Linked DNA regions of Homo sapiens: region 1 is linked to region 2. Evidence: fine-mapped QTL for protein levels in blood plasma. A gene starts in region 2. The other region holds a variant in brackets. All regions are shown on one strand. Distances are from middle to middle.

Region 1 (12,458 bases), 840 kb after region 2:
TGTGCCGCTTGGCTCCTAACAGTCCACGGACAGGTCTGGTGGTAGGGGTCCCCTGCAATAAATTATTTCCAGACATTTCAGTCGATTATGTCTTTATGTATTTTTACTAACATAAACATTTAGTAATTAACCATAAGGGATTTTTTTCCATCACTTTCTTAAACAGGCTGAAAAGACTGACTAGGCCAGAAACAGAAAGTGAAACCCATTAATCAGTATTTACCAATATAAATTTGTCGCTAAAAGTTTAAGTTACCAAATAATATAAACAGTGGCTAAATTTATCTGTGCATCTGTTCATTTTATACATACACACACACATACACACACGCACACAGTGTACCTAAGTATGTGCTTATTTCAGTGTCATGACAGAATTATAAAATACAGTAATTACTCTTGAAAAGTCATTTAGAATGAAATCAACACTAAAGGAACATATAATTTAGTTAGCAAAATATAGATACACATTCACTGTGTACTGTATTGTGTCTGTTTGGAAAAGACATTAAAAAGGTAAGTTAGATACTCGAATACATTGATTCCATCCTGAGAAGTTGAAACTTTAAAAAAATTTGAAACCATCAAAGCTTTTTCAGCAGTGAATCCAATATATGTATGATCTTATTATGCAGTAGTTTAGTGACATATGTGCCTATTACTCCACTCAGAGGTTGCATTCTGTGAAATCCAGAAGTGGGGTTTGTTGGTTTGTTTGCTTGTTTGTTTTGAGACGGAGTTTCGCTCTTTTCCCAGGATGGAGTGCAGTTGCACAATCTCGGCTCACTGCAATCTCTGCCTCCCAGGTTCAGGCGATTCTCCTGTCTCAGCCTCCCGAGTAGCTGGGATTACAGGCGCATGCCACCACACCTGGCTAAGTTTTGTATTATTAGTAGAGACAGGGTTTCATCATATTCGTCAGGTTGATCTCGAACTTCTGACCTCAGGTGATCCACCTACCTCAACCTCTCAAAGTGCTGGGATTACAGGCTTTAGCCACTGCGCCCAACCCAGACGGGGGTTTAATGTATCATTATATATTTGTTACCTAGTAAAATAACCAATATATAGCAGACATTAATCCAGATCAATATTAATAAGAAAACTGTCCCCTTAGTTACCAGGGTGACTCCCCATAAGCCATATTAATATTTTATAACCCTCTCATCACTCCCAAACTTGCTTATGGTTCAGAGATTTAGGGTTAGATTCCTTCCTAAAGCTAGACCTGTCCAAATTATTCTTTCAGACAAATTTTAATTAGAATTTCTGATTGAGTTTGTGTTTTACGTGGGAACTAGGGATGTTTTAAAGAAGAAAAACCTGATGTGTCATGAGACAGTCATATTCCTCTATGAATTTAGGAAGGCAGAAAAAGCAAGTCTGTAGAGACAGAAGCAGAAAGTAGATGACGAGAAAGAAATTTCTAGTTCCTAATTCCAGTATCTTCCTGAGGTTTGGCTATACTGGAAACTGTGGAGTGTGAGAGGAACATAGGCATTTTTATATTCAGTTCTTCCTTTGGCACAACTGCTTAAGAAGGTTCACACTGCTTGCAAAAAAGAGATGAATTCTAACTAAGAAACTATTGTTCAACTGAAGAATGAAGATTGTGACTTAGGTACAAAAATCTAATGGTAAAATGTAGTCATAGGTTGGAGGGAAGAAAAACAGGACAAGTCTAATTAAAATCAGGTAGGAAACCAGTGAATTTCTATTATGAAATTATTGTATGTTCTTGTAGCTCCACCTTTCCATTGGAGTCTGTGATTGTACTTAATTTGAGTATGGCAAGTGCCAGTATTTCCTTAAACTACTTTTAATAGTAAATAATACAACATAATCTTATGTCAAACAAAACAACTAAGACTTGATTTGATTGCCTCTATTTCTTGTAAGCTATTCAACTTTGGGAAATCATTCAAGTAGTCTAGATTCTATGTTCCCAAAATCAAATATAGGGCATTTGCTTAAAATAATGTGAGTGGTTTAGAAGACACAGGGTTAATACTGATTAGATAGAATAAAGCCAAATCTAAGTACAGTTGACTCTTGAACAACACAGGCCTGAATTGTGCAGGTACGCTTTTAGTGGACTGTTTTCAAGCAAACATGCATGGAAAATATAGTATTTCCAGGATGCAAAACCCACAAATACAGAGGCCAACTTTTCCTATAACCAGTTCCACAAGGCCAACTGCCCTTGAGTATGTGTGGATTTTGTTACATGAGGATGTCCTGGAGCCAATCCTCATTGTATACCGAGGGATGACTGTAATAATGTGATCATTTTGGAAAATCACTTATCAAGTTTTTTTTATTACTTGCTTTTTTCAGGAAGTTTTTGGTTTACAGAAAAATTGAATAAAAAAGTGTCCATATTATCTTTCCTTCCTGCACGTTTCTCTGTAATTTATAGCTTGCTTTGTTACATTTGTTATAAGTTGAACATTTGTTATAAGATGAACAAATAGTGATACATTACTATTTAGTAAAATTCGAAGTTTACATTAGAGTTCACTCTTTTGGTTGTACAGTTCTGTACAACAGAACTGCAGGGGTGCAGCCTAGGATCTGTTGCTTACAGCACAAAAAGTCAATCACTGAGATAACAAGTATTACCAGGGAAGAAGGATTTATTCCTGTGCTATAGCTGAGGAGAACAAGGTATCAGTCTCAAATCTGTCTACCCAACAGATCAAAACTGTGGAGTGTATATAGTGAGGGAAATTGAGAAAAATTAGGGAGGGCTAAGGAGTAATTATCATAGATGAGAGGTCTGGCATCTCGTTGTCTGGATGTAGTGGTCTGAGTTTTAGTTCCTTGCCTGAGGGTTCCAGAGGAAGGGACTCAGATGAGACAAAGATAAATTTCAAATTTAAAGACAGAGGGTCAATTTTGATGTTTATTATAAAAACTTGTAAATATCAGCTCTATGAGAAAATTGGGCTGGTTTCAATTCTATCGTTTTTGAAACTTAAAATAGTAACTTCTGACTAAATATATTCTTAATACTTTAGTTTTAATATCCACTGAATATTTCAATTCCCTTTCTCTTCTAGTATAGGCTGAACTGTTCATATTTGAAAATGTTCGTTATGACTTTTAGAAATATCTTGAGATGTGTGCATGTCCATGTGTAATTATTTTGGCAAAGAAAATTTTCATATCTACATTTGCTTTATCTCACATAATTTCTACAAATATTATTTTTCTATGTTTATTTTTTAACCAATAGAGATATTTTGAAAGACAATATTTTAAAATTCCAATGAGTAAAAAAACTAACATCTTGAGCTCTTGAAAAGCAATGATGTTAGGTAGCAAATTCTCACTGGACTGTCCAATACCTTCTGTCTTTTCAGCCCAGATAAGATAACTATTCAGAACAAAAGCAAAATAGCAAGAAAATCTCAGGTATATTTGAATTCAGCTATTTTCTGTTATCCTGGATTTTCTAATGAACCCTGACATTACACTTTAAAATTCTAAGTATTGTTATTGAATCTTTTGTGAGCTATTTAATCTGTTTAAAAGCAGAGACAAATGAGGCCATCAATATTTAAATGATTTCTATTCCTCATGGTGATTTCAAAATGAATCTCAGCTTACATTTGAAGATCTGAAAAAAGAAACAGTTGCCATCACAGACTCAGTGTATCAACAGTGAAGAATACGTTTTTGCATTTGAGATTTATATGATTATTTGAGATGAAGAACTTACGGTAGTGACAAAGAAAGGGAAAAGCTCAGATTTTGAAGGGTGGTAATTGTTTTGGGTAATTTCAGTTAACCCAGGAGGAAAAAGTAACATGGAAATTAGTTTATGGTAATCAAGAAAAAGCAGTTTCAAGATATGCTTTAATTTTCAGTGCCAAGATGTATCTAAAAATTTTATGCTATGGAAGTTGGAACTATCCCTCCCCCTACACCTCCTAATATCTGACATTGGTATACTTTTTGTTTTTCAATTATAAATTATTAACAATACACTTTTATTTCAGTCTTTCAAGAAAACTTTATGTGAGATGATGCTATTAGATTCCACATACTTCCAACTTTTCTCCTAATACCTTCACTCAATATCTGTGGTCTGCCTTCTATCAATATCTACACTATTGCTTTTATTATTGCCAAGTCATTAATATTCATGCTCTCTCTGACTGCCAAGTCTTCTGCACTTTTTCCCTAGGTTGATCCTAGATGTTGAAAAAAAAATTAATGGCATTTATCTTGCTGTGATTATGCAATTATTTTCACTTCAAGTAGAGTTCTGGGATTTTATTTTTTTCTCTATAGGTAATGTGTCTGGATCTCTAGGGCACTTGAAGGAGATTTTTTGTTTATGTAGCATCAAGCCTAAACTGATTCTTTTTCTCTCACTTTTTTATATGTTCTTAGTTTCTTGTTTGTTTTTTATAATCAGGCCACATTTTAATTAGCTTTATATTTGAATTGTTAATTTTTTAAAAAAATATTTGTTCCTCTAAATTTTTCATTTTTTATTAAATATTAAGGTTTTATTATTCTTTCAAGTGTTTCATTTAAAAAATCAGTTGTCTCTCCTGATAACCCTATCTTCCCATCCCTGAAAACCTCATGTTCTCTGGTATAGCACTGCCATTTTCTAGATCTTATACACTTCTACTCTTTCATTTACTTCCCCATTTTGCTGAAGATAATCTCAACTAAATTTCTAAGTGAAGGGTACAAAAGAGAAAAATATTTTAAGGATGTTTATGTTTGATAATGATTTCATGTTATATTTTCTCGATACTTTACTGAGTATATCCTGCTCGGTTACAAACATTACCCCAAAACTTTAAGAAGACTTTGCCTCCTTGCCTGCTTTTTAATCTCCAAGAGCACTATACAGAGTTTTCTGCTCACTTCATGGCACAAAATTCTTACTTTAAGGGTGTCTTACTATTGTGAGTATATTTATTCAAGTTGTTTTTTAAAGTTCTCTTTTCTTTGCCAAATTATTATGTCTTTTTCGAATATTGCATTTTTTCTGATATTGTTATAAACTGGTATTTTTTTTTAACATATTACTGATCTGTTCATATGTTTTTGGTCATTGTCTTTTCATAGTACAGGCATAAGAACAAAAGAGCTGAGAGCTGTCCTGTGGTATATTGTAAGTAGGCCTTCTCTGCTAGGTATCTCAGTGTGACAACTGTTACTGTAAGAAGTTTGTATTTTTGTCAGGACAAATTTCACATTAGAAAGAGCTGTCAGACAACGGATTGTCAGGATGAGGTTTCTCCAAAACCTCAATGCAAAGTTTTTATTTGGTGGAACTAATGCGTACACTAAAAGAATTAACTTTCCCCAGAATAATTCTTTCCTGCCCCTAAAAATAATTCTTTCTTTAGCCAAAGGGATATCCTGTATTTTAATTAAGGATTATTAATAGGCTGCCTATATTTTCAGTTGAATCTCTCCATTTTCAATAAAGATTCCCTCAACCCACATTAAATTTTATATTTATGTAATATGTAATTATCAGTAAACAACCTTCATCCTCTTTGTTTTTGAAAAATTAACTGCGATTTTATCTGCTGGAAATGCTTTATTCTCTTGAATATCTTTGTGTTTTTGGGCTTTTCCTTTGGTTCTTTTAGTTTTATATTTTAGACAGGGTTTCAGTGAGATATGGAGTAGGTCTGGATATACACTAGCTTGAAATTATTGATTTCAAAATGGCACTATTTAAAAAAATACCTATTGTGAGATTGATATATTTTGGATTATTTAACATTCCACAAAAAGTTTATAGAAAATTCCGTTATTGATTATTTATTCTTGTTTTCTGTTTTTGTTATATTTAAGTACTCTTCCAGAAATCCATATTTTAATTTCTACATCTAAATTATTCTGTAGACTATGAGCTCTTTAAGAACAGAAATCTGGTATTACATTAGTTTTAATTCTTTTCTCAGCTATACACTATACTCAGGCGCTGCATTAAATGTTGATATAATTAATTAAATTCCAGTATTCAAAAGTTTATTGATAGTTTTATAACTGTTTTAGGTGGTTCAATAATAAATAGATTACATATTTTGCTCTAGGCATTTAAGTAAGTGGAATATAACCATGAACACGTATGTTTATAGATTATAGTTGCAAGTATTATATATGTAATATAAATTTTATAGTTTTAACTGTATCTACTCCAATTTGTACTTATTTTTTTCAGGTTCTAGTTCTATTTCCAATTTTGTTTTACTGTAATATGCAAGGGATAATGTGCAGTTTTTCTTGGTTTCATCTAGAAGTCAGGCGAATCATGCAATATTTTTATTTCAACAGCAATCCCATCTTATGACTTATAATCTTCCAATCCATTTATATCTATAACATACGAGAAAGGGACAAGATTTTATGTCAACATTTTACTCAGACTATAAGATATAGTTAACTAACCCTTTGTGGAAGTATGAGAAGGAAAATCACCTTAAATCTGACATAAATATTATTTGACCTCATGCTTGTTGAGTTCCAGAGACCCTAAACTATTGTAAATATTAGTTTCTTCTTTTAACTTCACTTTTAAAATAGGTGATATGTATTTTCATAATACAGTATCTTTTGTAGATTTTAATAACTGTATACTAACTTATCACAGCCATGGTATTTGAATATATATTTAGCTTGATAGTAAAATGTTAAACCTTTGTGAAATGTAATGTAATATACAAAGAGGTGTCTTCCTGGTTCACAGCTCTAAGATAGAGTTCAGAAGCCATTCTAAGAATGACTGTATTAACTTGTCTTAAATCTTTGAACAAGGCCAAAGTGCCATGATCGCGTCACCCTGGAAAACAGGTGAATTTCTTCAGTGCTGCAACTCTTATACAGTGACAACCAATGAACTATGAACATGTACTAAGCCTGTTGCCTACACCAAAGATATTTCCTTCAAAACAACTGGTATGATCACTCTGAGTCCTTTTAAAAATCTCTACTCTCATCCCTCTCTTCAGAACATAATTTGGTCTTTAGTGGAGTTTGTTTCCTGAAATGAAATTCATAAAACCCCAATAAACACCTTGTCTTATGG[C/T]TTTGCAGTTGATTGACTAATCAACTGACTAATTGACTGACTCCTTCAAATCAACTAGGTTTAATTTCCAATATACATATGATGAGGCTTTTATTTTCTTGTTTCAAAAATAAAAAATAATTTTGTTATTAGAACAGATGTTTGAAGCAATCCCACAGATGTCTGGATCTTCTAGGAGAGGTTTGTTAAAGGTCTCTAATTCAGATTGTGTGAGATACTGTGGGAATGGATTTTGTGTTTCACTTTAAACCTCCTGCAGCTCATCCTGCATGAAATGTAAAATCACATCTCAGAAAGCAGATTGAGTATTTATGGTAATTTTTCTCTATAAAATGAAAAGGTGACTGAAAATTAACTGAAGAGTAAATGTATAGAATGACACTTAAGCTTAAAAACAATATAATACTGCCAAATTACATTTATTTAATTATATCATTGAAATTAGGTATGAGTAAATAATTATATAAATTCTTTAAAAATAATTTAATGAGCATACTCTTTCTTTGAAAAAATAAGAAAAGTACTCTGTAGTATTTTTATTTTTGAGGTCTTCTTACAAGATTATGCATTTTGGTAAGTGCCCATTATCTATTATCAAGTCACCATTCAAACCTAAGATGACACATGCAGATAGATTTGGTTTTATTATTAAAAGAAAACATTTGTGGTAAGATGCTGAGGTTATATTTCTTAAATTCTTAATTGTGACATCATGTATTTATATGTTTTGAAAATGCTATCTGAAGGAGGACAAAACAATCATTTCTGAGGCTATTAAGGATGTGGATTCAAGGTCAGACAAAGCTTTCAATACTTAAGAATAAACCAAAGCTGGAGACTCAGGCTTTTAAGAGTCATTAAGTATTTAACAGTTATTAGCCAAAAGCCTCTGGCAATTTTGTTTGCTACAAAGAACTTTGCTTTAGTGGCTCCATACAAAAACAGCTTGGGAGTTTTGATTGATTTATTAGGGTGACTTTGGTTTATTTAGAGAACACAATGTCTGTATCTAGGTTATTGTTTGAGTTTATTTGATGATACTATTATAGCTTACCAGTGGAAAATAAACAAATAAATACAGTAAAAGGAAATGATATAGGCTAGAAACTGTATCATCATATTCTTTTTGTATGTGGCTCATTACTACACTATAAATTTGATGTTAAAGTAAATTAAAAGTATATTTTAAATCTGCCTCTGAAACAAAAGTTGGTCTGTGAGGTTAACACCAAATATGAGTGAGCATTGGAATAACCATACACCTTTTAGGAATCACAAAGTACACAACAGTATATGAAAGTATCTCCAGTAAAGTGAATGCTTGCTCAATTGAAGGGCTCCACTTACTTGGAAATCTTTATCACAACAGAAAATGTCCACAGAAATGAACAATTTACTCTTGTTCAAAATGTCACATTCAGGAAAAGGTTTACTAACCCTTGGGAGAACACTAAAGACTTTTGAGAATTTTTCATGTTAACCAGTCATCTTCTGGGAATTATGACCTAAATATTGATATGACTAAAACTCATGTGTCAATGCAAATCTAGTTGTATCTTGGATTACATACATATAACACTATGCTTAAATCATAGTCTAACAATTGACTTCAGATTAAAGTGTCATTCTTACAATATCACCTATGTGGTATATTTTTGCATTTAAATTTCTGCCTGTTAAGCTTGACAGATGTAACTTTATTATATATTATGTTAATATATAATAAACATATTAATATATAATATGTTAATATATAATAATATGTTTATATACAATATATAATATAGTTTTATATAAAATTATATATTTTAATTAAAGTATATCTTAAAATTTTATTCTTACTCTAATAAAAGAAAGAGTTTCTTCATACTAGGTATGAAAACAAAATGAATATTTGTCATTGGTTCTTTTTACCCTTTTATTTTAATTGAACCACACTATTTAAAAATATTTCTTAGCACTGAGAATTTCAATTTTACTTTGAACTGAATTATTTTAATAAATAAGAAAATATTCAATTTTAAAAAATAGTGACATATGCTATTTCTTCACTATGAATTATGAGCACAAAACAATATAAACTAAGTAGTTCAAACTCATATTTATAAAAATATTGGTTAAAAGGATGACTATTACAGGCTAATTAATATAAATATTGTTAATGATTAAACTATTTTCTTCCTTAGAGAAAATGGTGCCACAGTCTGAACAGTTTTCTTTTCTTTTTTAATACTTAACATCATCTTTGGTAATATGAGCCTACAACAGTAAATCTGAACTGTCATAAAAATAGAGCTTTATTGATGGAAGTTCATTACGTACTCTACATCCACATTAAAGGAAGACAGATAGGAGGCATTATCAAACGTAGAGAGACACTTTTTTCCCTCATTGCTGACATTTATACTCTACAAATGATAAAGTAAAAGTGCCCTGTGACCTTTGGTCCCTCTCTTTTCAAAATTAAAAAGAATTGCATAGGACATCACAGGACCTACTGGGCTAGAGTGAGGTCCATTTCTCTCCTTCAGGGGATGGCTACCTGAAAGTGTGGCATACAGTAGGAATTTAACAAATGATTCAAGAAGTTAAGAGTAGGAAAATATGTTCAGGAATTTAAAACACAATGCATCTGGAATTGAACTAATTATACATATCCCAAATTCCACTGTCTTTTGAGTCATAACTCAAATGCCCTGGAATCTCTAGTTGACAGAATTTTTTTATTTCTTCCAACACATATAAGCTCTCTGTGGACCTGCCAAAAAAAATCTGACCTGAACAGTAGTTAAGTGGAAACAAACAAAACAAAAAACAAAAAACCAATAAACCTCAAAAACTACTGCAATAAAAGAAAAGAGACATCAGTATAGATCTAGCTCAATTCTGAATACCACATGAAAAAGTGATTCATAGCCCAGAAACACAGTTGGAGGGGGTCAAATAGTGGATGGAAAATTACTGAGAGAAACTTCAAGGGTAAAAGGTGGTTCCTGGCTAAGTTGACTTAACAGGATTTTTGCTGAAGGTAGGCAAGGATGATGAGATATCATCTTGTTGATGATGAGGTATGAGAAATTTGATTAGACATGGGGAGTGATCAGGTATTGAGGGTGGGATCCTGGCTAAACCAACTAAATTGTTTTTTTGCTAAAACAGAGGGATGCAAAGATAAACATGGAAGTCCATAGGTCAAGACCTACATGATCAGAGGATACAAAGAAAACTGACTGAAGTTTGGTCAAAGAGCTGAACTTTGTCTTACCCAAGGCACTTACTATTAATAATGCTCTTATAGTACTGATCTCAATGACTTCATTATATGACTCTTTTCCTCATCATGGTAAAAGTTTACTGTAGATCAGTGGCTCTAAATAGGGGGTGATTTTGCTTCCCATTGGATATTTGGCTGTACCTGAAGACATTTTTTGTTGTCACAACTGGGTGAATGCTACTGATATCTAGAGTAGAGACAACAATGTCACTAAACATCCTGCAATGCAAAGGACAATCCCTCACAAGAAAGAATTTCTATTTTAAAAGGTCAGTAGTGGTCAAATGGAAAAACTTTGCAGCAGATAAAGAATTGTGTCCCACTGCCATGTTCCTAAACTTTTGTCTGTGTGTGTGCTTCATATGAAGAATACTTTCCAAATTTTATAATCAGCGCATGAAGAGGCTAGGCGGTCTGTTAGAGATAGCTCATGACTTTTAAATACTGTAATGCATTTTATATAATAAAACTGTTTTTTTAACCCATTTGATTTCTTTTATTATAAAAATATTGTAATAAAATATTCTTTATAAAACATATTAGTTATGGTACATGGCATAGGCTACAATAGAAAGTCCAAATGTAGAGGCTTTAACAAGGAAGACATTTATTTCTTTCTCATTAAAAAGTTCAGAAACAAGTGATTCAGGAAATAGGATGGCTTCACATCATCAATATAAGTTTTCCTAAATCTAAGGTAGTGTCTCTAGAGCTCTTCACTTCCAGTCAGCTGTGAGGGAAAATAGGTAGTGAGTATATATGCATTTCCAATGGAAAACATCTTCTAATGCCTATTGGTCAGAATCTAGGACCAATTGATTACACTAAGGCTGGGAAATGTTGTCTCTTGATGGAAGACTCTGTAACACTGAAGTACAGAAATTCTACAGTACTTATAAAGAACGGAGAATGGTATAGGTCAGAACTAGCAATCTCTGATGAGTGAAGTAAGGTAAAGTTTGAAAAATATGAAAAAACAAAATAATTACTCAGTTTTCAGAGTACTGACTTCCAGTTTTCTAATGCTATTTTAACAAAATATAATAGTATTATAAGCAGACATTGTTTAATATTTTATTATGAATATCCTTTTATGTAAGTGAATGTTCTTAAAAAATAAAGAGCTTCTACTACTACAAAGTGTTTCATCATAAAGTTAACATATCATTTCTTAACCATTAGCTTTTATAGACATTTTAATAGTTTCTTACATTTTACTGTGGCAAAAATTACTAATGAACATCTTACACAGATATGGGTCCACCTCTGTAATTATTTTCTTAAGGGTGATTCCTAAAAAATGGATTTGTGGATTAAATGTTATGAGTAAATGTTTTGTAAAAATCTAAGACACATTGGTTAATTGTGTTTCACAGTGGTTATAGCAATTTATACCCCATCAACATGTGAGGCTATATATTTGACTCAATCATTGCCAATAGTTACATTACTGCAAAAGTATAATCATTGATATTGTTTTTTCTTCTGTAAAAAGAAAATTAAAACTCGAGATTCCATTTGACTATGCCAAAATGAAAATAAGGCTTAAAGCTGAGTTTTGCAATAAACTGCCTTTCCTTCTGTTCCTAGGAAGATACCTATAGATAAGGGATTAAATGTCTTCACAGGTAGCTACTCTATGTTCATCATCTTATGTAAAATGCTGATTTACTGAGTACAAGATGGATATATAATTGACTATTCCCCTACCTGTTCCTTTTCTCTTACAGTATGTGAATTCAGTAATGTGACCACACCCTCCCTTTGTCCCCTTCTGCATGCTCCTTTCCTTTAAATATTGAAGCCCTCAAAATTATCTTTGGATAAAGGCACAGATCTGTCTCCAAGGCACATCCTTACCCATGGCAAAATAAACTAAATTGATTGATACCTGTCTCAGACACTTTCTGGTTTATAAATTGGTGACCACAAAGGGACTCTGAGTGGAGGTAGCCCTGACCTTTGACAAATCTTGTATCAGTGCTTGACACCACTTTGAGTTATCTTGATTGCTCAAACCAATACAACAATTTTCTGAGGCCTGGGAGCTCCTGCCTCCAGAGAATCCATGATCTCCCCAAGTTCATTTGACATCTAAGTTTTATTTTCCTGTTC
Region 2 (12,458 bases):
GTTAAAAGGTAGTAGAGTTTTTAAAACATGTTACCTTTTAGTAAATGCTAGAGAACACTTGCACATGGGGAGTTAATGTCAGCCTATTGTATCATTCAACAGAGTTATTTTTCCAGGGCATTGGTTTAAACCCACAGAAAAAGGCCAGTTTCTAAAGATTATCTGATCTTTTGTGACACAAGTGTTCCAAAAGTTTCTAACTTAGTAAATATTATCATTCAATATCAATACAGTGTATTTAAGACATATAATTCATTTTTAATATTTTATTGATAGCTATTCTGTTTGTTTTATACTACAGAATCTTTGAAACTACTCTACATTTTAGAAATAAAATAACTCAAACAAATAATTTATAAGAAGTCCATTAATTTCCAACGTTGTATCCTTCTAACACACACGCATACAGAAACACACATGCCTATGTATCACTTGTATATGTGTAGGCATATTTTGGCTATTTTTCATGGCCCTTCAAATGAAATATTACAAAATAAACCATAATATATTTTAAGGTGAAAGTGGGAGGTATCAGCAGTTGCTTTTTCACTTTCTTAACCACATCAAACATTTCATCACTACCCTTTGAATAAAAATATCCAACAGAAACAAAAAGTAAGAAAATTACTTTTAGGTCAGATTCTCCTTTGAAATTATTAAGGGCACAACATGAAATACCTACTTAAATATACAAGTGTTAAATATTTATCTTCTATTTATGTTTTTGGCAAATCTTTTTAGAAGGTACTTTAAGATTTTTCGGGAGGGGGAGGTAAATTTGTAGCATCATGGGTTCTACATTATTTGATAGCTTTACCATCATTAAAAAACTAGTGAATGATACCTTCACCATGACACATATGTTTATTATTTTTTTCTTGTTAATATTATTCAAAATATGTGCAAAATAATAACATTTCTAATAAACATTTTCCTACTTATCAATTTTTTTAAAACCATGCCAACTGAAGTGCCAAATTCAGACCACTCATCTGTGAAAGTATTTTGTCAAACGATGAAGAAAAAATGACATGCATATGGAATAATATTTATCTTTAGATGCCCAAATATGAAAAAATCAATTTCAGTACTAAAAAGGCAGAGTTACAGATATGGAAATCACTAAACATTTGTTGTTTAGCAACATAGAAATGTGAAGGGAGACTTAGATAGAATATAGTAGCTAAAAGCAGCTATAGATGCCTAAGCCTCAGCAGCAATATAAGGGAAGGAGCCAAATTCAAAGAAACTTCAGTTTTTGTTTTTTGGGTTTTTTTTTTTAATTGAACTAAGCTACTTTGTGAATTACTGACATTAAGAAATAAATTCGGTGTTTCACTACACTCTTGTTATATACTTAAGATGCAAGACTGTACATAAGATTTCCATTATTTGTGAATTCCAGCACGTGATCATATTGAAGACTTTTATCTATTCCCATACTTAGTGCTGAAAGCATTTTTTATCAGGTTCTTTATATTGAAATCAGTCTGATTTCAAAATATTCACTTTATATTCATGTTCTCAAATAGCTTTCAAAAAGTCAAAAACCAGGAGAAATTTGGTTTTACATGTAAACATGTACATATATGGTTTAGGCTGTCTAATTTGTGTAGCTGATACCAGTACTGTTCCTCTATGATGCAGTTGGTTTAAAGTCAGTAGATTAAAAGGACACATACAGAACTTCAAATGTGCTCCCAAAGGGATATCCATGAAGACTAATTAAAATATTGTGGATGTTTCAGAAGTAACTCTCAAGCACTACAATGCTTTCTAACATTTTGTCACTTCATTGCTTACAACAAATTCTGTAGTTTCATGGCTTCAGTTGTTTTTTCAAGTTAAATCACTCCTTCTCTAGCTCAAACTCATATCTTGAAAACTAGTTCTGCATTTCTACCTGGCAGGTGAGTTTCTTTGCATAAATATATACTTAAATAACTAGGAAGTTCATTACCTTAGACTTTTAAACAAGTCATCTAGGGGTAAAAAAAAAAAAAAAAACAATTGATGGAAAGTAGAAGTTTTAATTTGCTTAACTGTTTTTTCAATCAGTTGGATTTGTCCAAAAATAAAATGGCCTGCTCTGAAATGCACTAAGCTCCATTACCTATGTAACAAACCTGCACACCCTGCACATGTACCCTGGAACTAAAAATAAAAGTTTATTTAAAAAAGTATATACATAATCTTGATAACAACTTGCCAGGGGACAGTGAAGTAGATTCTAATATCACGTAATTGGTCAGATTAGATTACCTTCCAAGTCCCTCTTAGTCTTGAGATTTTATGATTCTATAAAATTATTATTTCCTTCTCTCATAATATCATATTTAAAAATATGTTTCTACCACTAAAGCTTATCTGATTTGCCTTTTTCCATTACATATAACACCTACATTTATTTCCTGATACATTATTCAATAATCAATTTACTTCAACTTACATTTGATTTATTTCTCTTCATCTTAGTCTTTTAAAACTTTTTCCCCTCTCAGTAATTTTAATCTTAACATCTACAATTTATTAATTCAAAATAATTTTGAAAAATATCTTTAAAAGTAGACAAATAACTTTGTGCTTAATCCAGCCTATAAATAAACATTTGTTCATATTGAATAGTTTAAATCTGATTGTCTCAAAATAGCTCACATAACCTTTAAGATTAAAACACTTGTTTACTTCAAAAAGAAGCTGAAGGTTCATTTGGAAGATGCCTATAAAGTGCTTTAAAATGTTTTAGTGAAACAAGATATAAAAGATCAATGTTTAATTGAATATTTTATAACTTCTTCATACTTATAGCTTGTTAAATCTATGCTGATTCACTAAGACTTATAAGATGCTATTAAAAAAACAAAATTATCAATTGGTGTGGAACTTTTTCTACGATATAAAATGTTTCAAAAGTGTTTCTCCTATGGAGATACAGAAAGATCTACAGAAATAAACATACAACAAAACTAAAAATATTAATTCATGTTTTATCACATTTTTATTTGCTTAACTTTTATAGCCTATGTTCCCATTTATAAAATTGTGTGTAACTATATTTTCAATTGTTTCAACAGTGGTATATCAAAAGTTAAGCAAATGACAATGCACTTAGGTTTTGATGGTTATCAGACATGCAATTTGTTGACCTAAACAGCATTTGAAATGAACAAAGAGAAAAAAAAATGTTTTTTTTCACAAATTTTTTACAATGCTTCACAAATGTTTTTACAATGCTTAAAAACAGACAAACACAATACGTAAATGGCTACATGCTGTACATAATCACAGATTACCACAGCTACATTTCAAGTTTGGAACTTTCTTGAGTGGCTACTTCATTATACAACAAACAGTTCTCTAACCCTAGTTTAATTAGTAGTAAATCTTTTAAAAGATGTATTTATTTTATTTAAACCATCAGAATGAGCAAAATATATGCTAGACCAAAAAATAAAGTCTATCTTAGTTATTTCAATATCATTGTTCCTCTCTGAAAAATGACAGAATCATTAAAACTATTTGAAATATTGTAATGTTTATAATTTAAAAACCAATCAGCAATGTAGACATAATTAATATTTGTTGAACTAAAAATTACATCCTATATATTACTTTTATGTTTTCCTTTTATCCATTGTGCATCATCAATAAAGAACATCTTTTTTTAAATGAGAGTTCTCCTTTTTCACAATGTAAATGATGTTTGGTTAAAATAAAACTAGGGACATGTAAATGTCTGTATGCAAAGCACTAAAAAGTCACAACATAAAATCAAATATCCATCATAATCACTTACTCTACAATATTTTTATCTGGCCTGTAATATTTGTATGGGTAGTACTCATGTTTAACACTAACAACCTATTCTAGCTATTCAATCTTCTGCAGCTCCCCAGTACCATCAGGCCACACTAACATCTGCTCAGAGTAAACAAATTAATATATTCAGAACTCTCTCATCAAAATGACCTTGAAAATAGTTCCAAAAAGTTAAAGAGATTCAGTAACTTTAGGAGTGATGTTGCCCAATGTCTTTCAGGGTTACTTTAATATCCTCCAGCCCTGAGGCTCAAAGGGCATGTGTGTGATTTCACACTTGCCCACATAAAATATGGTGTATCCAGGAGTGAGTCTCCTCAAATTGGGCAACCACCTGAAAAGGCCAAAAATATCTCTGTGACACATCAAACTACTGATGCAGTTTGGTTTTTCCTAAATCTGACTGATTCATTATGGGGATGTACTCCTTTGGCAACCCTGCCTAGATATACCACTTTGAAGCCCAATTTGGCGACCCAGTGAGTGAAACACCTATGACAAATTTTCTTTGTATATCTATGTCTTCCTGTATGTAAAATTCACATGGAAGAATTTATTATCCTAGAAAATACTGGAAAGAGGTTTGGAATTCATGCCAGTGAGTCTGAAATGCTATATTTAAAAAGAATCCATTTTAATACATGGTGCTTTTTATTACTTTCTGGGTCCCTGTAGATATTTTACTAATCTTAATAATCTTGAAGAATGCTGAGTATTTTAAAGAACAAATGAAAACATTGTAAGTATGATATATACACACACGTATACACGTATATATATATAATCTAAATTCATTTTATGCAGAACCAACACAGTTGCCATACTAAATTTAGAGTGTGTGTATATGTATATATCCCAAAAAATTCCACAGGCCCCTGGCTGTCTCTGTGACCAACTCCATCCTTTCCTATCTTTTAATGTAGGTAATACGGACACTAACTTGTGGTATTATATGTCAATAATATGAACTAACGATGGTATAAATTATAGTATATACAAAATTCACTAAATAAAGATGTAAAACATATATCCAGGCCTGTCTATCGAAGGATTTTATGCATAAATTAAAAGAGAGTACTGTTTCTTTGCAAAGGGTGAGTTAGAGTTCTTTGAATGCTTTTGAAAATAGGTTCAAGATCATTCTACCTACAATTATAATAGCTAAATAACTTTGCCTTCCTTGGACAATGTATTGCATTCTCTTCAGGAAGAAATGGCAAGAGATACAGAGATGATTCCCCAGGCTACCTTCTATTCACTTTGGGAGTTAGTGGAAGACTGCCCTCTTTCCAACACAGTCTCTGATGAAAGGGATCTATTAAAAAGAATTGCGTTGGTTTACACTGCAGATTGAATGGAGCATTAAACGAATGACTGCATTAGTATGACTGCAGTGGGGGTAATGGTCGCCTCTGTAATGTTGTAATAATACTTTCACATACGTGTTATTACACGTATTAATTGTTCCAGTGTCCGTATCTAATTTATCGCGAAATGGTATCCAGCATCTCTCAGGCAAATGCCCCCCTCCCAACTCCCTGTGCCCTACAGTTTTATGCCCCCCGCCCCCGGCAAATGTAAACAGATGAGGAAATATGTGTACTTTCAAATCGTCACCCATGTATCATGAAGGTGGGGGATTACTGCAAATCACTTGGAAACCGCTCCCCGGAGGCGTTTAGCGATACCGCCCACCAATACAGCTCAGATGTTCTTAATTTGATCACCCTCCACCTTTTGGGCTGTAATTTTCCAAACAGGCATCTCTCTCATTTGCAAATAAAAGTTACAAATCAATCCACGGGTACAGAATGCTGACTTCCCGACACTCAATTTCACAGGGTGTCTCTTGAAGAGCTGCCAGGTTGTGACCGATAATGGGGGAGAGGGAAAGGCGGACAGCGAAAGCGAGAGAGAGAGAGCGAGAGCGAGAGCGAGAGAGAGAGCGAGAGAGAGAGAGACAGAGAGAGGAGAGAGAGAGAGAGAGAGAGAGAGAGAGACAGAGAGAGAGAGAGAGAGAGAGATCACTTGCTTCCTTGCTTCCTAAGCCGGGATTTTGCCTGCGATGCGCGGCGAGAGGACTGCGGCGGCTGATTTACACAGTTGGCGCGGAGGAGGGGCCGGGGGTGCGGGGGGGACGCGCTGGCGGAGCTCCGGCGATGGGCTGATCTGGGGGCTCCCGAGCGCCGCTCCCTTGGTGCGCGATTTGGGGGCGGCTGATGGATTTGCATTCAGGTTCCAGCCCTGCGTTTCCTATATTGACTCCTTATACACGACCTGGCGCTCCAGTTTAGGAGGAGACGTTGGTAAGTAACGTGTAATCCGATTTTAGTTATTTCCTAGGCCATTAAAGTGGCACTTTTAAAGCAGGTCAGTCTTAAAAGATGCCGCCGCCGCCGCCGCCGCGAGCGTCTCCTTGGCCTGAAACGTTCAGCAGTCCCCTCCCCCTCCCACCCCCCTCCCCCGCACCTTCTCCCGCTCGAGAAGTGAGGGTGCTTGAATGGTGAGCGGTCAGAGGACTCACTCTCTGCCAACGGTATCGCTTCACCTTCGTGCTTTGCCTGAGATCTCCCAAATCCAAGTGGAATTTGGTGTGCACAGCCATACTGTGTATTTGTATCTTCTCTCCCCCTCTCCTTCTTTCCCCCCACCTTCGCCGTCTGACCAATGCTGGGATCTGAGATCTAGTCGCCCCCTTCCTGCCTCCTTTCCGCCTCTCCCCACCCTTTTCTTCTCTCATCTACACGCCACCAACCCCCACTCCCACCCACCTAAAGGGCAAAGAGCAAAGACACCCTGGAAAAGCAAGGGCTAATTCCATCTTCTCGGATGGAAGGAGGCCTCGGGCAGGGATTGCGCTGTGAGTGACAACCTTTGAGGAAGAGAGAAAGAGAGAAATCCAGAGACTGAGCTCAGGCTCTCGGGAACAACGAAGCTCTCCACTGATCCAGAGCACCGAGATTTTAAATCAAAGGAACCTAGTCCTGGGACACTCACTCTGCCTGCCTGCCTACCAACCATCGAGGGCATAGGGAGCTGTGGTCGTGAGCTCCCTGTCGCTGGCATCGCCGCGCTAGGTGCGCGCCCCGCTCTCCCATTGGTATGCAGCGACCATTTCCCTGCAAGTCTCAAAGGTGGAAACATTTAAACGGATTACAAGCGTGATTCGGTAGCCTTTCGGAAAGTTGGTGGCCAGAAGAGGAGAAGCTACAAGGCTACAGTATGATGGATACAATTCAGCTTCGCAGAGAGTTTGCCCCTCCTGCTGGGTAGCCCCTCGCAGCAAACCTCGGAGATCCTGAGCGCTCTGCACCATAGGTACTCGCCGCCATCCTTTCCTACTTCGCCTAATTGAAACCAGTATTTCTCGTATGTAGGATGTGCATTGTAGAGCACATCGAGTTTGGCCGCGGTGTATTCTGTACGCTCACAGGTGCTAGGGGTTTGTTGCAGTTTTGAATTGGATCAGTTAGGTGTAAGGACGTTGGTGGAAGGAGGGGTACCGGAGACTAACATACCCTCGGACCTCTTTTCTGGGTGAAGACATCGTAAGTAACTCCAACAAATAGGCCAGGTGGCGGAGCGAAGGACCCCTCCCCCAGTGGAATGCTCGCTGGTGTTGTAAGAGGTAGAAGGAAAAAGGCTTGAGCTTTTAATAATTTTCCGTTTCTAAACAGACCATTGTGCGTTTCGCCTGACGACAGCAGATTAGAAAAGGCTCTATAGACGGCTCAAAGCTCTTCAGAAAATGAATGATGCAGCGTTTTAATTATTTGTTCTAGGGAAGATAGTTTTGCTTCCATATTGGAATACTTAATCTTAGATCTGAAAAAATTAGTGAGCTGTAAGATCCAGCAGTGGGGAGGAGGAAGTGGGAAGGGGGCACAGCAGGGAGAAAGGGCTTCTTGTCCTCCCTCTGGACAAACAAATGGCTCTGGGCGCTCCCAGCAGGACACGGAAAAAACTGGGGCCCCATGGCTCAATATTCCCTAACTTTTGGAGCCCTCCCTGTCCTTTAGACGCGCTATCCTGAGCTAAAGAAAAGGAAAAAGGTGAGATAGCCTTTAGGACACAGCCCAGGTCCAGAACGTAAGGGGTTTTAGTTCAAGAAATAACAGAGACTTCATTGCCGAGACAACATTTACCGTCATCTGGAAGCTCAGGGCAGCCTCCGGGTTACCCATCGATTCCATCACATCATGGGTTCCGATAACACCCGATAAATAGTCACCGCCTCTGCACATTGGGTACCCAAAGTGCTGGGCGGGGGATGGGGGGGAGGGTGCGGGTGCCGGCAGCTGGGGAGGGAGAGGGAATTGCTCTGATTCTGAGCTTAGGCTATCGGTATTGGTTTACTTCTTGGCTAAGACCTATGGGAGCAATAGGGTGAGTCTGGAATATTAAGGGTAGAATGTTAGAAAATTCTGCCCTCCTGCTTACTTAGTGTATGGTGGCATGTTTCTAAAATTAGCTACTGTCTGCCAGTGGACTCCTGTGCGGTCATTTTAAATGCAAAATATCATGGAAATTGCCTTTGACTGACTTTTAAGGAACACATTGTTAGGTGATTTACCTGTTTTAGAGCAGTAAGAAATTGACATGTAAGCTGTGCTTTGCTTTAAAATTTGCTTTTGTAAAGGGTCCATTAAGGGAAAACCATCTCTACCTACTAACTTTGAGTCCTTGGGCAATTGAGGTTCAGTTTAGTTCTTTAGCAACCAAAAAGTCCCTGCCTTCTCCCCTCCCGGCGAGGAGTTGGTGACAGGATTGGTGTGTGCTGGTGGGGGCAGATGGGGAGCATCCACAGCACACGGGTCCTGTTGATTAGACTCCTTTGCTGCACACTTGGCTCTCCCCAGTTTCCCCACCAAGCTGCATTCCTTCCCAGCAGGCAGGACTGTAGTGCTGTCAGCTGAGCCTTAAAAAAATTCCTCTGAAAGCGTTCCTGAACTGTCATCTGGTAGTCCCTCTACAATACAATATCTTCCTTCAATCACCTCCACCCCCACTCCCACTACTCCCTAGGATTCACTCCCCGAAAATTTCACGGAGAAATATTTGAGTTTAAAAAATAAGAAAGAGAAAGAACGGACAAAAGCATCCAAATCCTTAAATCCACCCCAATCCCGCGAGGTCTTTCCCGGTGGCGCAATGTGAAATGTACCATTGTTACCCAAGTGGTCTGTATCTCCTTCCAGAGAATTGGCTTGTCTCTGTTTTTAAAAAGTGGAAGAAAAGAAATGCTGTTGAATCCAGGGGCTATCGAAGGCTTTGACCTGCAGCACAACAAAAGAATTCCTGGTGCAACGGGATCGAAGCAAAATGCAGGAGAAACTCGGTCCAAGTCTTTCAGGCTGTCTGAGCTCTTATTCGGGACACCCAGGCAGAATCAGACAGATTCAGCTTTTCTGCTTTGGGGACCTGGATTTCCCCCCATCCCCGTCATTGCAGGGAATGGCTGTCCTGTGAAAATGATACTTACGAAGGATAGTCTCACTTTTCAAACCACCTGCACTAGAGAGATGAGCTTTGGAAACTAAAGGAGCAAATCATTCAGGGGATGGTTTCCTTGAGAGTTTAAAAAAAAAGAAAGAAAGAAAGAAAGAAAGAAAGAAAGAAAATGCCTATCCCTGCCCCCCTCCCCCATCTCCACCTTCCTCACCAAAGAAATGTTTCCCATAGGTTGGTCTCCTCCCCCTTCTCTCTGGTTTCTTATTTTGCCAATTTGTGTTCTCTACCCCTCTACTTCTTTTCCCTACACACACACACACACACACACACACACACACACTCACTCAACTGTATAGTCAGGGGTTCCTAGTGCTCGCTCCCGAACCCATGCTAAGCGCGTTCCCTTTGGAGCTCATTTTCATGACGTGGAATGCTGGGTTCAGGGTTATAGCACATATATATTTTTAAAGCCGGAGCGAGAGAAGTCTGAGATTCTGCACTGTGATTGAGCCTTCCTTCCTCCCTGCCTCCCTCCTGTGCTTCCTCCCAGTGCCCAGTGATGTGCTGTGGGTACCCAAAGAGAGCAGCCACCGCGGCGGCAGCGGCAGGGGCAGCAGAGCTGGAAGCCTGCTGCAGCCCCTTCTCCTCCCTCCTCTACTGAGTGTGCCAAGCGGCAGTTCTGCATCCTAAAGAAGCCCATTGAAGAGCCCATTGCATTCCCAGCACGTCTCAAGCTTGCTGCTTTTTTTTTTTTTCTCTTAGTCCCCCCGCCCAACCCCCTTTATCCCCTTTTGCTTCAGCTTCAGCAAAGCAAAGGGAGGGGGAGGGAAAGAGAGAGAATCCTTAAACTCAAGCTTTTTTTTTTTCTTTTTCTTTTCACGGTTCCATGCTAATAAATAAATAAATAAATTACAAAAAAACCCGAAACCCAAAAAAACTCTGGCAAAATAGGTAAGTCCAACACATCTGTAGCCTTTTTTGCCTAAACCATAGGGACCTGAAAAACAAGAAAAATATTTAAGATGGTGAAGAAAGAACTTAAGTAGATTTTAATATTTCATAAGGGAGATGGAAGACTAATTGATACTGCAATGTAGCCTTTTCTCTCTCCCTCTTTTTCACTGAATTGTTTTTAATTTTTGAGTATTGCATGTCTGAGGCAGATTTCTCTTTGCTTTCTCACGGTATCTCCTTTCTTTACAGCTGTGAACATTATAGGCGAGTGTAATGTGAAGATTTATTTCTTTCACTTTTCCTATAAATTATATCATTGTGGTTTAAGAAGAAGGTTGATGAAATATATCTTTCTGTGTGCTCTCTATGAGGAAAATATATGCTAGAAACTTTGGTTTATTTTTGTTGATTAAAATCAGCTATTAAATTTTGATTGATATTTTAGTGACTCAGGAAGGACAGTGTAATAAAACTGCATTATTATCATTTATGTAAACATTTTCATATACTGATGTTATTAGGCAAGGAAAACGATGCATAGAGAAAGACTGTTATCAGAATAGTGCACTGCATTTGTTTCTTCTGATTGGAAAAGAATGATATCTTTTTTGAAATTTATTTCGTGTGATAGATCATTTATCAGCAGGTAAGAATAGAGGTTTCCACTCTCTCTTGACTTTAACTACCCACCTCCCCTCTAACCAGCCACCTGCTCTTCCAGCTTTTTACAGGGTTCCTCAGTTGATCTTGAAGGCGCAGATACACATTCCAAACTAAGTTTTGCAAATGTTTTAATTCAGACACTTTCAGACTCAGCATCCTCTAGCTGTCCCTATCTTTAGCTCTGACAATTGCACGGGCATGTTTTTTAGAAGGGCTAATCACTCCTACATGTTTTAAATAGTCAAATGATACAAATATATACAAATTATTTATTAAATTAAAGAAGATGACAATAATGTATTATTGGGCAAGAAGATGTGGACATATAGTGTACATACTGACTATACACTGTAATAAAGCATGTTATGATCATTTCATAAAAATAAATCTTAAGTTTTCCTGAGATGCTGATCATTTTACACATCTCAACATCTGATATTGAGCAATAGGCTCATACTTTATCACACTAATCAATATAATAATTTTGGAGTATATCATGTCTTTTTAATCATCAAAACCTATAACTCAAAGAACATATTTTTCCCATCAGAGTTCCAATCAGATTTATTATGAGTATCTTTGATGTCAACATGAGTTTTAACAGGCAAACAGGTGTGATGGCCACATTATTGCCATTATTACTGAATCTGCCTATGCCTAAAAGGAAGTACGATATACCAGTTCTGTTGTTTGTTATACAGAGGCAATGCAGGCTGCTTTTGTTCATGCAATATGCCGTTTACCAAGTATGGCTTGGTTCAGGAAAATGTCACTGCATGGTTCAATATTTCAGAGTCTCCTAAGTTTAAAATATAGGACACACTCTAAACATTAAGTATGTTGCTAGCTCATCTTGAGTGTCACTTCAACAATTGCTGAAGTTTTTATATAGCTCTTAAAATGCCCCACATGTAGGAGTCAATTAAAATAGTACATATGACTAAAAGCTAAAAATCTGCATTTTTATTTCTGTTGCAGTTTTGTAATCAACCACGAACGATGAAACCTTCCATAGCTGAGATGCTTCACAGAGGAAGGATGTTGTGGATAATTCTTCTAAGCACAATTGCTCTAGGATGGACTACCCCGATTCCCCTAATAGAGGACTCAGAGGAAATAGATGAGCCCTGTTTTGATCCATGCTACTGTGAAGTTAAAGAAAGCCTCTTTCATATACATTGTGACAGTAAAGGATTTACAAATATTAGTCAGATTACCGAGTTCTGGTCAAGACCTTTTAAACTGTATCTGCAGAGGAATTCTATGAGGAAATTATATACCAACAGTTTTCTTCATTTGAATAATGCTGTGTCTATTAATCTTGGGAACAATGCATTGCAGGACATTCAGACTGGAGCTTTCAATGGTCTTAAGATTTTAAAGAGACTATATCTACATGAAAACAAACTAGATGTCTTCAGAAATGACACCTTCCTTGGCTTGGAAAGTCTAGAATATCTGCAGGCAGATTACAATGTCATTAAACGTATTGAGAGTGGGGCATTTCGGAACCTAAGTAAATTGAGGGTTCTGATTTTAAATGATAATCTCATCCCCATGCTTCCAACCAA

Evidence for each region. PIP is the posterior inclusion probability: the model's chance that the variant is causal. Protein levels are from the aptamer-based SomaScan assay of Sun 2018.
Region 1: its variant is fine-mapped to the plasma level of the SLITRK3 protein (Sun 2018, PIP 0.95).

Annotation. Positions count from the first base shown.
Region 1 is chr3:164,348,666-164,361,123 of GRCh38, reverse strand. It overlaps LOC105374189 (a long non-coding RNA gene), which reads right to left. Exons shown (of 3, transcript XR_924657.2): 2 at 1-52. Among named protein-coding and RNA genes, the nearest start is that of MIR1263, 180 kb to the right of the region's middle. The variant C/T (reference allele first, on the strand shown) is at 7,070.
Region 2 is chr3:165,190,259-165,202,716 of GRCh38, reverse strand. It overlaps SLITRK3 (SLIT and NTRK like family member 3), which reads left to right and starts at 6,333. Exons shown (of 2, transcript NM_001318810.2): 1 at 6,333-7,137; 2 at 11,866-12,458. The coding sequence starts at 11,887.